Linked DNA regions of Homo sapiens: region 2 is linked to region 1. The links come from fine-mapping of genetic effects on gene expression. A gene starts in region 1. The other region holds a variant in brackets. All regions are shown on one strand. Distances are between the middles of the regions.

The links. PIP is the estimated chance that this variant, and not a neighbour inherited with it, causes the effect.
Region 2: its variant is the best candidate, but not a certain one, in a credible set for the expression of NBDY in whole blood (TOPMed, PIP 0.60).

What each region holds. Positions count from the first base shown.
Region 1 is chrX:56,727,091-56,732,470 of GRCh38, forward strand. It overlaps NBDY (negative regulator of P-body association), which reads left to right and starts at 2,153. Exons shown (of 3, transcript NM_001348129.2): 1 at 2,153-2,499; 2 at 4,973-5,109. The coding sequence starts at 2,264. The coding sequence ends at 2,470. RefSeq lists an enhancer at 2,194-2,273.
Region 2 is chrX:56,328,501-56,333,880 of GRCh38, forward strand. No RefSeq gene overlaps it. Among named protein-coding and RNA genes, the nearest start is that of KLF8, 99 kb to the left of the region's middle. The variant T/C (reference allele first, on the strand shown) is at 3,198.

The DNA.
Region 1 (5,380 bases):
TAAAGTTTATGTTATGTATGCTTTACCACAAAGCATATAAACAAATAAATAAATAAATCTAATTGTGGTATAAATAGTCAATGTTGATAGAAGCAACTCTAAGTTGGGACTGTTTTCACCTCAAGTCAAATGTTTACCGTAAATTAAACCTAGCTGGAGTTGATAAAATTTTTAATTCCTGTTACTTTACTAACGAGGCACATATTTCTCTTAATTTGCTAAAACTATAGCTATAGAACGACTTAACTGCAACTCTTAATGTCTTTAGTCGTGAAGATTTAGAGACCTATGTAAAAAGACTGTGAAATTGTTACTTCATTTACTTGAATAAATAATAAAATATTCTTCAGTTTCTAAAAATAAAGACTCCAAAGTTTGACTTGTATATCTGAGTGGAAGGCATAACATTTCACTGAGATGAAAGAAAAAAAAAACTAGGAAAGGAGCAAATTTGGTGGATTAAGGATAGACCAATGGTTCTCAACTGGGGACAATTGTGTACCCGAGGGGACATCTGGCAATGTTTGGAAATCTTTTTGGTTATCACAACTTGAGGAGTAGGGAGTAGTACTGGCATATAGTTGGTAGAGGCTTAGCTTAGGACATTGCTAAACGGTAAACTCTGGCAACCACTACAAAGATTGATTTGGCCTCAAATGTCAATAGCACCAAGATTGAGAAACTCTGGGTTAGAATCTTCTTCGCTGACTTTGACCACTCTTTCTCAGCCTTTGCAGCAGACTTCTTTTCTTCTATCTGTCTCTAATTACTCAATATTCTGTTTTTAGCTCAATTATTTTTCCTTTAGATTTTCTCTTGGGGATATAATCCATTCCCTTGTCTTTAACTATCACCTCTATGTTGCTGTCTCCCACATCAGTATGTCTAGTTCCAACTACTCTTCTAGCTCTAAAATATTGCCTCTCTCAATGCCTCCCTCACATCTTTTCATTAAGCTACAGCTACATCTGACTTTTCTGTCTTTATTAGTAGCATTTGGCACAAAACCACGGGGTCATTTATTTCCCAAATATTTACTGAGTACCTAATTTGTGTAAAGGGCTGTGCTGGTTACTTGGAGGAAGGTAGAAGGGTGGAGATAAGAGATAGTTATAGTAGTAAATGCTTTACATGTATTATCCCTGGTTATGGAAACACCTTTGCAAGGAAAAAATTATGGCCTAGAAACCAAAGTTCCAAGAATTTAAATAATTACTCAAAGAGCTCAGAGCTTGTAAACAGCAGAGTTTAACAGGCACTTCTACTCTGGCATTAAGGACTAAGCTCTCTCCATTTAAAAAAACAAAAAACAAACAAAAAGCACTGAGAACAAAGCTGAAGAAGTGTGATCTAGTTTGTCCATAGCTAAAGGGAGATGGATGTGTAGGCTATTTTAATAATGAAGGTCTAAGAAGTTCCAGAAGCCTTTTCTTCTGAGACACGTGGTACTTTCTTCTGGTTACCATAAATCATAGAATATAACATATCATCACTAGTAAGATGGGTCATTATTTTCCATACCTACAAGAAAGAAAAAAAAAAGCTGCCAACTAAAGTATAGTGTACCATCAATTGTTAGGTCGCAGAGATTTCCTAGATATTCAAATTTGGGGAAAAACATAATAAGCCTTCAAAAATTACAAATTTGCTTAAAAAATAAAGAAAAAATGATCTTAGATTCTATGACATACGGTGAATTCATTTTCCACATTCAATTTCCATGGTTTGTGCTAGTGTGCTATTCTGCACTCTAGTCAACTTACATGTTTGCATATTGCTTTTTAAATGTTTGTAGCTAGTTTCACAGCTCTGTGATGTGCATCTGCAGCTGGCTTGTAAAGCTCTTCAATAATTTATTTGGTTACCGCCCACCCCCGCGTCCCTCCCACACATATAAGCCATTCAGAGTTTACCACTTAAAGGTAAACTTGAATTTCTTCTCATCTTAAAATTGCATAAATTATATTAAATTCTCAATAAATTTATTTACATTTAGTGGGGGTGGGGCGCGATGGAAAAACACTATATTAAATAACGACATCGGTTTTTAACACCCATCCTAATAGAAACATTAAAATAGAATGGGGTAGGGAGGAGGGGTGGAGGCGGAGAAGGGATGTACGTCTCAGGATACAGGAAATACGGTAAGAGCGAAACAGGAGGAAGCCAGCTCTGTGCCTGGAGGGGACTCGCCGCCATCTCAGGTCTCTTGGCTTTGCCAGGGCCCACCGGAGAAAACTGACGACCCGTTTCTGTAATCCTTATGGGAGACCAACCTTGTGCCTCCGGGAGATCCACTCTCCCACCTGGAAACGCACGGGAAGCCAAGCCTCCAAAAAAGCGCTGCCTCCTCGCTCCGCGTTGGGATTATCCGGAAGGAACTCCCAACGGAGGTAGTACCACTCTACCCTCCGCACCTCCTCCTGCATCAGCCGGCCTGAAGTCGCACCCTCCTCCTCCGGAGAAGTAGAGAAATAAATTTCTCCCACCCTAAACCAGGTCAGATTCTTTCTCATCTAGGACATCTAGGCTCTTTGAAACTTATTTATGCATTCTCACAAATTTCCTTCCCCTTTTCCCTGTTCTTTCCATGATTTCAAAATAGAAAAAATAACATGCAGGGATTAAGCAGCTCTTTCACAAAATATGCTTGAATGAAATGATGGATATTTAACGACATTAAATAATTATTTGTAATATTTTAGATGAAATAATTGTAGTTATATTTTCTAAGAAATAGACTTGAATCTTTTGATTTGCTTGAAAGTAAGTCATTGGTGCCAAGGTGGAGGGAAAGTGTAATAAAAATGCTCATGAGTTGATAATTTAAAGCTGGGTGATGTATATGTAGGGATTTATTATATTATTCTCTCTACTTTTGCGTGCATTGGAAAATTTTTTTGTTAAAAAAAAAAAGGCTGGTTCAAGGCCAATAAAAAGCATCTGTTGAAGGCCAGCCTTCAGAAGTGTATGTCTTTCTCTGTGTAAGGCAGGAGAGTTGAATTTTTTTTTTTAAAGCTACAATGTGATAGTCAAATCCAAGTGCCATAATGTTTGCTTGTTCAAGGTATTCAGGAAGGGTGGAGGATGGACCAAGTCACTGCCTGGTAGTAATCATGAGCCATCAAAAAGGAGGAGTAGGGGGGCGGACGCGGTGGCTCACGCCTATTATCCTAGCACTTTGGGATGCCGAGGTGAGCAGATCAGGTCAGGAGTTCGAGACCAGCGTGGCCAACACGGTGAAACCCCGTCTCTACTAAAGTTACAAAAATTAGCCAGGCGTGATGGTGGACGCCTGTAATCTCAGCAACTCGGGAGGCTAAGGCAGGACAATCATTTGAACCTGGAAGGCAGAGGTTGCAGTGAGCCGAGATCGCGCCATTGCTCTCCAGCCTGGGCGACAATAGCAAAAAACTACGTCTCAAAAAAAAAAAAAAAAAAAAAAAAAAAAAAAAAGGAAGGAGGAACTTTGGGTGGGCCTTAAAGGTTGAGTGACATCTGCCATGTGGAGGGGCAGGGAATGCTTTTCAGGCCGAGGGTTTCCAGAGAAAAGGCAGAATTCTTCTGGAAACAGCTTGGCTATAATTTTGAATCTACAAGAAGGACTAGGAGGTGAAGATAAAGTGCTTCAGGGCCTTAAATGTTATGCTGAGCATATACTTCATTCCAATATCCATCAAGTGCTACTATTTGTATTTTAAGATTCCTATTCTTACTATCAGAAAAGGAATCTCTGATATTTAGATGAACTTTATAGAATGCAAATTATAAAACTGAATCTGACCCAAGTTTTATAGATCCTTTTAATTCAAAGGAGAGAAGCATCTTTTCTTCATTCGTGCAGTAAACCTTTATGAAGCCCTTGCAATGGGTAGGAATTATTCTGAGAGCTGTAGGGGATGGATGGCCAAGGCATAGTGCCTAGTACATAATAGGAGTGAAACAGATATTTCAATAAATAAATCAATGAATGATGGGACAACTTTGGCGACCAAAAAAGTTTTAGACATTGGGTTTGGTGGTAATGCATAGAAAAAAAAAAATAGAAATCTATTTTACTTGAAAGCATCTCCCTGTCATTCCATACAGTTTTACTTCTCACATGTTTACCTCTATTCAAAGGGGTAGTGGAGTGGAAGGTTGCAGGGAGTAGGGAGAAAATTGCTCAGATAGAAAACAAAAGAGCAGCCGGGCGCAGTGGCTCACGCCTGTAATCCCAGCACTTTGTGCCGCTGAGGTGGGCAGATCACCTAAGGTCAGGAGTTCGAGACCAGCCTGGCCAATATGGCGAAACCCCATCTCTACTAAAAGTAAAAAAAAAAAAAAAAAAAATAGCCGGTCATGGTGTTGTGTGCCTATAATCCCAGCTACTCGGGACGCTGAATTAGGAGAATCGCTTGAATCCAGGAGGCAGAGATTGCAGTGAGCCGAGATCATGCCACTGCACTCCAGCCTGGGCGACAGACCGGGACTCGGTGTAAAAAATAAATAAATAAATAATTTTAAAAAATAAAAAGGAAAAAGAAAAGAAAACAAAAGAACAAAACAATAAGTGCAGTAGCTACATAATTTCCCCTCCAAGTGATTCAAATCACTGATAATTGTAATAATAGCCAATATTTACTGAAGATTTATGTGCCAATTTTCTAAAGGGCTTTGCATGTTATAATTTATTTAATCACAACTCTACTAGAGAAGTTTGTATAGACCAAGGGAAGTTGTATGACTTGCCACAAGTTACACAGCAAGAAGTAGCTGAGCTGAGCTTTGAACCCAGAACACCTGATTCCAGAGTTTATGCTCTAAACTTCTATATAATACATCCCTTCTAATACTATGTATACAACTGTTTTATAGGAATAAATCATTGAAATAGAGGTATGGGAAGGATAATGATTTGAGGAGACCAAGGGACAAAGAGATGGACAAAAACAGAAAAAATGATGCCACAATATTTTTTACTATTTTTCAGTCTTTGAGTGATTGCAGTATGACTCCATTTCCCTGGTGCATTCATATAATAGTTCACCTGGTGAAAACAATGAAGATTATTTACAATGCTACCCTGCTTTTTCTGGTGTCCTGAACCTGGAAGTTGTGCTTTTTAAGGTAATCTCTTTACCAAAAATTATTAAGAGGAGGAAGAGAAAAAAAAGAGTTGGTTTTGACACATTAAAAAGTAGCCAAACAAAACTCAAAAAGATAGCAGCAAATGATAAAATTGAAACTATATTCTACATTATATGAAAACATATTCATAATAATAGTGTAATCTGAAGAAATGTTTTGTTAGATTCACTTGTACTTATAGTTTCTATTATTACTGTGAAATATATCATCTTTTTAACTACATTTTCTAATTGTTTCTAGTAAATGGGAA
Region 2 (5,380 bases), 400 kb before region 1:
TTAGGTCTGCTTGGATCAGAGCTGAGTTTAATTCCTGCATATCATTGTTAAGTTTCTGTCTCGTTGATCTGTTTAATGTTGACAGTGGGGTGTTAAAGTCTCCCATTATTATTGTCTGGGAGTCTAAGTCTCTTTGTACGTTACTCAGGACTTGCTTTATGAATCTGGGTGCTCCTGTATTGGGTGCATATATATTTAGGATAGTTAGCTCTTCTTCTTGAATTGATCCCTTTACCATTATGTCATGACCTTCTTTTTCTTTTTTGGTCTTTCTAGGTTTAAAGTCTGTTTTATCAGAGACTAGGATTGCAACCCCTGCCTTTTTCCGTTTTCCATTTGCTTGGTAGATCTTCCTCCATCCCTTTATTTTGAGCCTATGTGTGTCTCTGCACGTGAGATGGGTCTCCTGAATACAGCACACTGATGGGTCTTGACTCTTTATCCAATTTGCCAGTCTGTGTCTTTTAATTGGAGCATTTATTCCATTTACATTTAAAGTTAATATTATTATGTGTGTATTTGATCCTGTCATTATGATGTTAGCTGGTTATTTTGCTCGTTAGTTGACGCAGTTTCTTCCTAGCCTCGATGGTCTTTACAATTTGGCATGATTTTGTGCTGGCTGGTACCGGTTGTTCCTTTCCATGTTCAGTGCTTCCTTCAGGAGCTCTTTTAGGGCAGGCCTGGTGGTGACAAAATCTCTCAGCATTTGCTTGTTCGTAAAGGATTTTATTTCTCCTTCACTTCTAAAGCTTAGTTTGGCTGGATATGAAATTCTGGGTTGAAAATTCTTTTCTTTAAGAATGTTGAATATTGGCCCCCACTCTCTTCTGGCTTGTAGAGTTTCTGCCAAGAGATCCGCTGTTAGTCTGATGGGCTTCCTTTTGTGGGTAACCCGACCTTTCTCTCTGGCTGCCCTTAACATTTTTTCCTTCATTTCAACTTTGGTGAATCTGACAATTATGTGTCTTGCAGTTGCTCTTCTGGAGGAATATCTTTGTGGCATTCTCTGTATTTCCTGAATCTGAATGTTGGCCTGCCTTGCTAGATTGGGGAAGTTCTCCTGAATAATATTATGCAGAGTGTTTTCCAACTTGGTTCCATTCTCCCTGTCACTTTCAGATACACCAATCAGATCTAGATTTGGTCTTTTCACATAGTCCCATATTTCTTGGAGGCTTTGTTCATTTATTTTTATTCTTTTTTCTCTGAACTTCCCTTCTTGCTTTAGTTCATTCATTTCATCTTCCATCACTGATACCCTTTCTTCCGGTTGATTGTGTCAGCTCCTGAGGATTCTGCATTCTTCACTTAGTTCTCGAGCCTTGGCTTTCAGCTCCATCAGCGACTTTAAGTGCTTCTCTGTATTGGTTATTCTAGTTATACATTCATCTAAATTTTTTTCAAAGTTTTCAACTTCTTTGCCTTTGGTTTGAATTTCCTCCCGTAGCTCAGAGTAGTTTGGTCGTCTGAAGCCTTCTTCTCTCATCTCATCAAAGTCATTCTCCATCCAGCTTTGTTCCATTGCTGATGAGGAGCTACGTTCCTTTGGAGGAGGAAAGGTGCTCTGCTTTTTAGAGTTTCCAGTTTTTCTGCTGTGTTTTTTCCCCATCTTTGTGGTTTTATCTACTTTTGGTCTTTGATGATGGTGATGTACAGATGGATTTTTGGTGTGGATGTCCTTTCTGTTTGTTAGTTTTCCTTCTTACAGTCAAGACCCTCAGCTTCAGGTCTGTTGGAGTTTGCTAGTGGTCCACTCCACACTCTGTTTGCCTGGGTACCAGCAGCAGTGGCTGCAGAACAGCAGATTTTTGTGAACCACAAATGATTCTTTCTGATCATTCCTCTGGAAGTTTTGTCTCAGAGGAGTACCTGGCCGTGTGAGGTGTCAGTCTGCCCCTACTGGGGGGTGCCTCCCAGTTAGGCTGCTCAGGGGTCAGGGGTCAGGGACCCACTTGAGGAGGCAGTCTGCCCGTTCTCAGATCTCCAGCTGCATGCTGGGAGAACCACTGCTCCCTTCAAAGCTGTCAGAGAGGGACATTTAAATCTGCAGATGTTATTGCTGTCTTTTTGTTTGTCTGTGCCCTGCCCCCACAGGTGGCACCTACAGAAGCAGGTAGGCCTCCTTGAGCTGTGGTGGGCTCCACCCAGTTTGACCTTCCTGGCTGCTTTGTTTACCTAAGTAAGCCTGGATAATGGCAGTCGCCCCTCCCCCAGCCTCGCTGCCTCCGTGCAGTTTGATCTCAGACTGCTGTGCTAGCAATCAGTGGGACTCCGTGGGTGTAGGACCCTCCGAGCCATGTGTGGGATATAATCTCCTGGTGTGCGGTTTTTTAAGCCCATCAGAAAAGCACAGTATTGGGGTGGGAGTGACCTGATTTTCCAGGTGCCATCTGTCACCCCTTTCTTTGACTAGGAAAGGGAACTCCCTGACCCCTTGTGCTTCCCGAGTGAGGCAATGCCTCCCCCTGCTTCAGCTCGCACATGCTGCACTGCACCCACTGTCCTGCGCCCACTGTCTGGCACTCCCTAGTGAGATGAACCCGGTACCTCAGATGGAAATGCAGAAATCACCCATCTTCTGTGTCGCACACTCTGGGAGCTTTAGACCGGAGCTGTTCCTATTCAGCCATCTTGGCTCGCTTAATTCTTTTTCTCAGCAAGGAACATCCCTGAGACAGAGAATGTGTCCCTGAGGGTAGGCCTCTAACATGGCCACTTTGAGGGGTGGCCATCTTTTATGGTCAAAACTGTAGCAATGAAATAATCCCCAGTCTCCCATAGTGCTTCCAGTCTTATTAGGATGAGGAAATTCCCACCTAATAAATTTTGGTCGTACTGGTTGTCTGCTCTCAAACCCTGATAAGATGTTATCAATGACAATTCATGCCCGAAAGTTCATTAGCAATTTTAATTTCACCCTGGTCCTTTGGTTCTGTGATCTCTCTCTGCCTCCATTTGCCTTGTGATATTCTATTACCTTGTGAAGCATGTGATCTCTGTGACCCACACCCTATTCATACTCTCCCTCCCATTTTGAAAATCACTAATAAAAACTTGCTGGTTTTGTGGCTCAGGGGGCATCACAGAACCTGCCGACCTGTGATGTCTCCCCCAGACACCCAGCTTTAAAATTTCTCTTTTTTGTACTCTGACCCTTTATTTCGTGGGTGAATTTCATCCAATATCTGGCTGAA[T/C]TTCCCCTGATAAAGCCTCACTACATACTCCACTAACAGCCACAGCCTGAGGGCTGTGGAACTCTGAGGAACTCACAAGACAACACTGACACTGATTATAGCTGAAGAAATTATATGAAGACTCTACTACTGTGTTCATCCAGAATCAAAGCCTAAGTGCCTTATCCAACCAACACTATAGATACATTGATATGGTTTGTATAATTGTCCCCTCCAAATTTCTTGGAAATATTTTTAAGCTCCTTGTAGACTCTGGATATTAGAGCTTTGTCATATGGGTAGATTGCAAAAGTGTTCTCCCATTCTGTAGGTTATCTGTTCATCTGATGATAGCTTATCTTGCTGTGCAGAAGCTCTTTAGTTTCATTGGATCCCGTTCTTCAATTTTTACTTTTGTTGCAATTGCTTTCAGCATTTTCATCATGAAATCTTTGCCTGTGCTGATGTCCTGAATGGTATTACCTAGATTTTCTTCTAGGGTTTTTATAGTTTCAGGTTTTACATGTAAGTCTTCAATCAATCTTGAGTTAATTTTAGTATAATGTTTAAGGAGGAGTCCAGTTTTTAATTTTCTGCATATGGCTAGCAAGTTTCCCCAGAGCCACTTATTAAATAGGTAGTCCTTTCCCCATTGCTTGTTTTTGTCAGGTTTGTCAAAGATCACTTCGTTGTAGGTGTGTGGCCTTATTTCTGAGTTCTCTATTATGTTCCATTAGTCTGTGTCTGTTTTCGTACCAGTACCATGGTATTTTGGTTACTGTAGCCTTGTAGTATAGTTTGAAGTTGGGTAGCATAATGCCTCCAGCTTTGTCCTTTTTGCTTAGGATTGTCTTGGCTATATGGGCTTTTTTGGTTCCATATGAATTTTAAAATAATTTTTTTCTAATTCTGTGAAAAATGTTAATGGGACTTTAGTGGAAATAGCATTGAATCTATGAATTACTTTGCACAGTATGGCCATTTTTATGGTATTGATTCTTTCTATCCAAGAGCATGGAATGTTTTTCCATTTGTTTGTGACCTCTCTGATTTCCTTGAGCAGTGGTTTGTAGTTGTCTTTAAGAGATCCTTCACTTCTCTTGTAAGCCGTATTCCTAGGTATTTTATTCTCTTCGTAGCAATTATGAATGAGAATTCATTCATGATTTGGCTTTCTGCTTGCCTGTTGTTGGTGTACAGAGATGCTCGCAATTTTTGAACATTGATTTTGTACCCTGAGACATTACTGAAGTTGCTTATCAGGCTAAGAAGCTTTTGGGCTGAGATGATGTGGTTTTCTAGATATAGAATCATGTCATCTGCAAACAAAGACAATTTGGCTTCTTCTCTGACTATTTGAATACCCTTTATTTATTACTCTTGCCTGATTGCTCTGGCCAGAACTTCCAATAACATGTTGAATAAGAGTGGTGAGAGACAGCATGCTTGTCTCGTGCCAGTATTCAAGGAGAATGCTTCCAGGTTTTGCCCATTTAGTGTGATATTGGCTATAGGTTTGTCATATACGGCTCTTTTATTTTGCAGTATGATCCTTAGATACATAGTTTATTGAGACCTTTTAACATAAAGGGATGTTAAATTTTATCAAAGGCCTTTTCTGCATCTATTGAGATAATCATGTGGTTTTTGTATTTAGTTCTGTTTATTTGATGAATTACATTTATTGATTTGTGTATATTGAACCAACCTTGCATCCCGGGGATGAAGCCAATTTGTTCGTGGTGGATATGCTTTTTGATTTGTTGATGGATTCAGTTTGCTAGTATTTCATTGACGATTTTTGCATTGATGTTCATTAGGGATGTTGGCCTGAAGTGTTTTTATTTTTATTTTTATTTTTATCTCTGCCAGGTTTTGGTGTAAGAATGATGCTGGCCTCATAAAATGAGTTAGGGAGGAGTCCCTCCATATCAATTGTTTAGAATACTTTCAGTAGAAATCATACCAACTCTTCTTTCTACCTCTGGTAGAGTTCAGCTTTAAATCTACCTGGTCCTAGGTTTTTATTGTTTTGTTTTGTTTGTTCAGTAGAAATTGTACCAGCTCTTCTTCCTAACTCTGGTAAAATTGAACTGTAAATTCGTCTGGTCCTGGGCTTTTTAAATTTTTGGGGGGTTTGTAGGCTATTTATTAATGCTGGAACTTCATAACTCACTATTGGTCTATTCAGGGATTCAATTTCC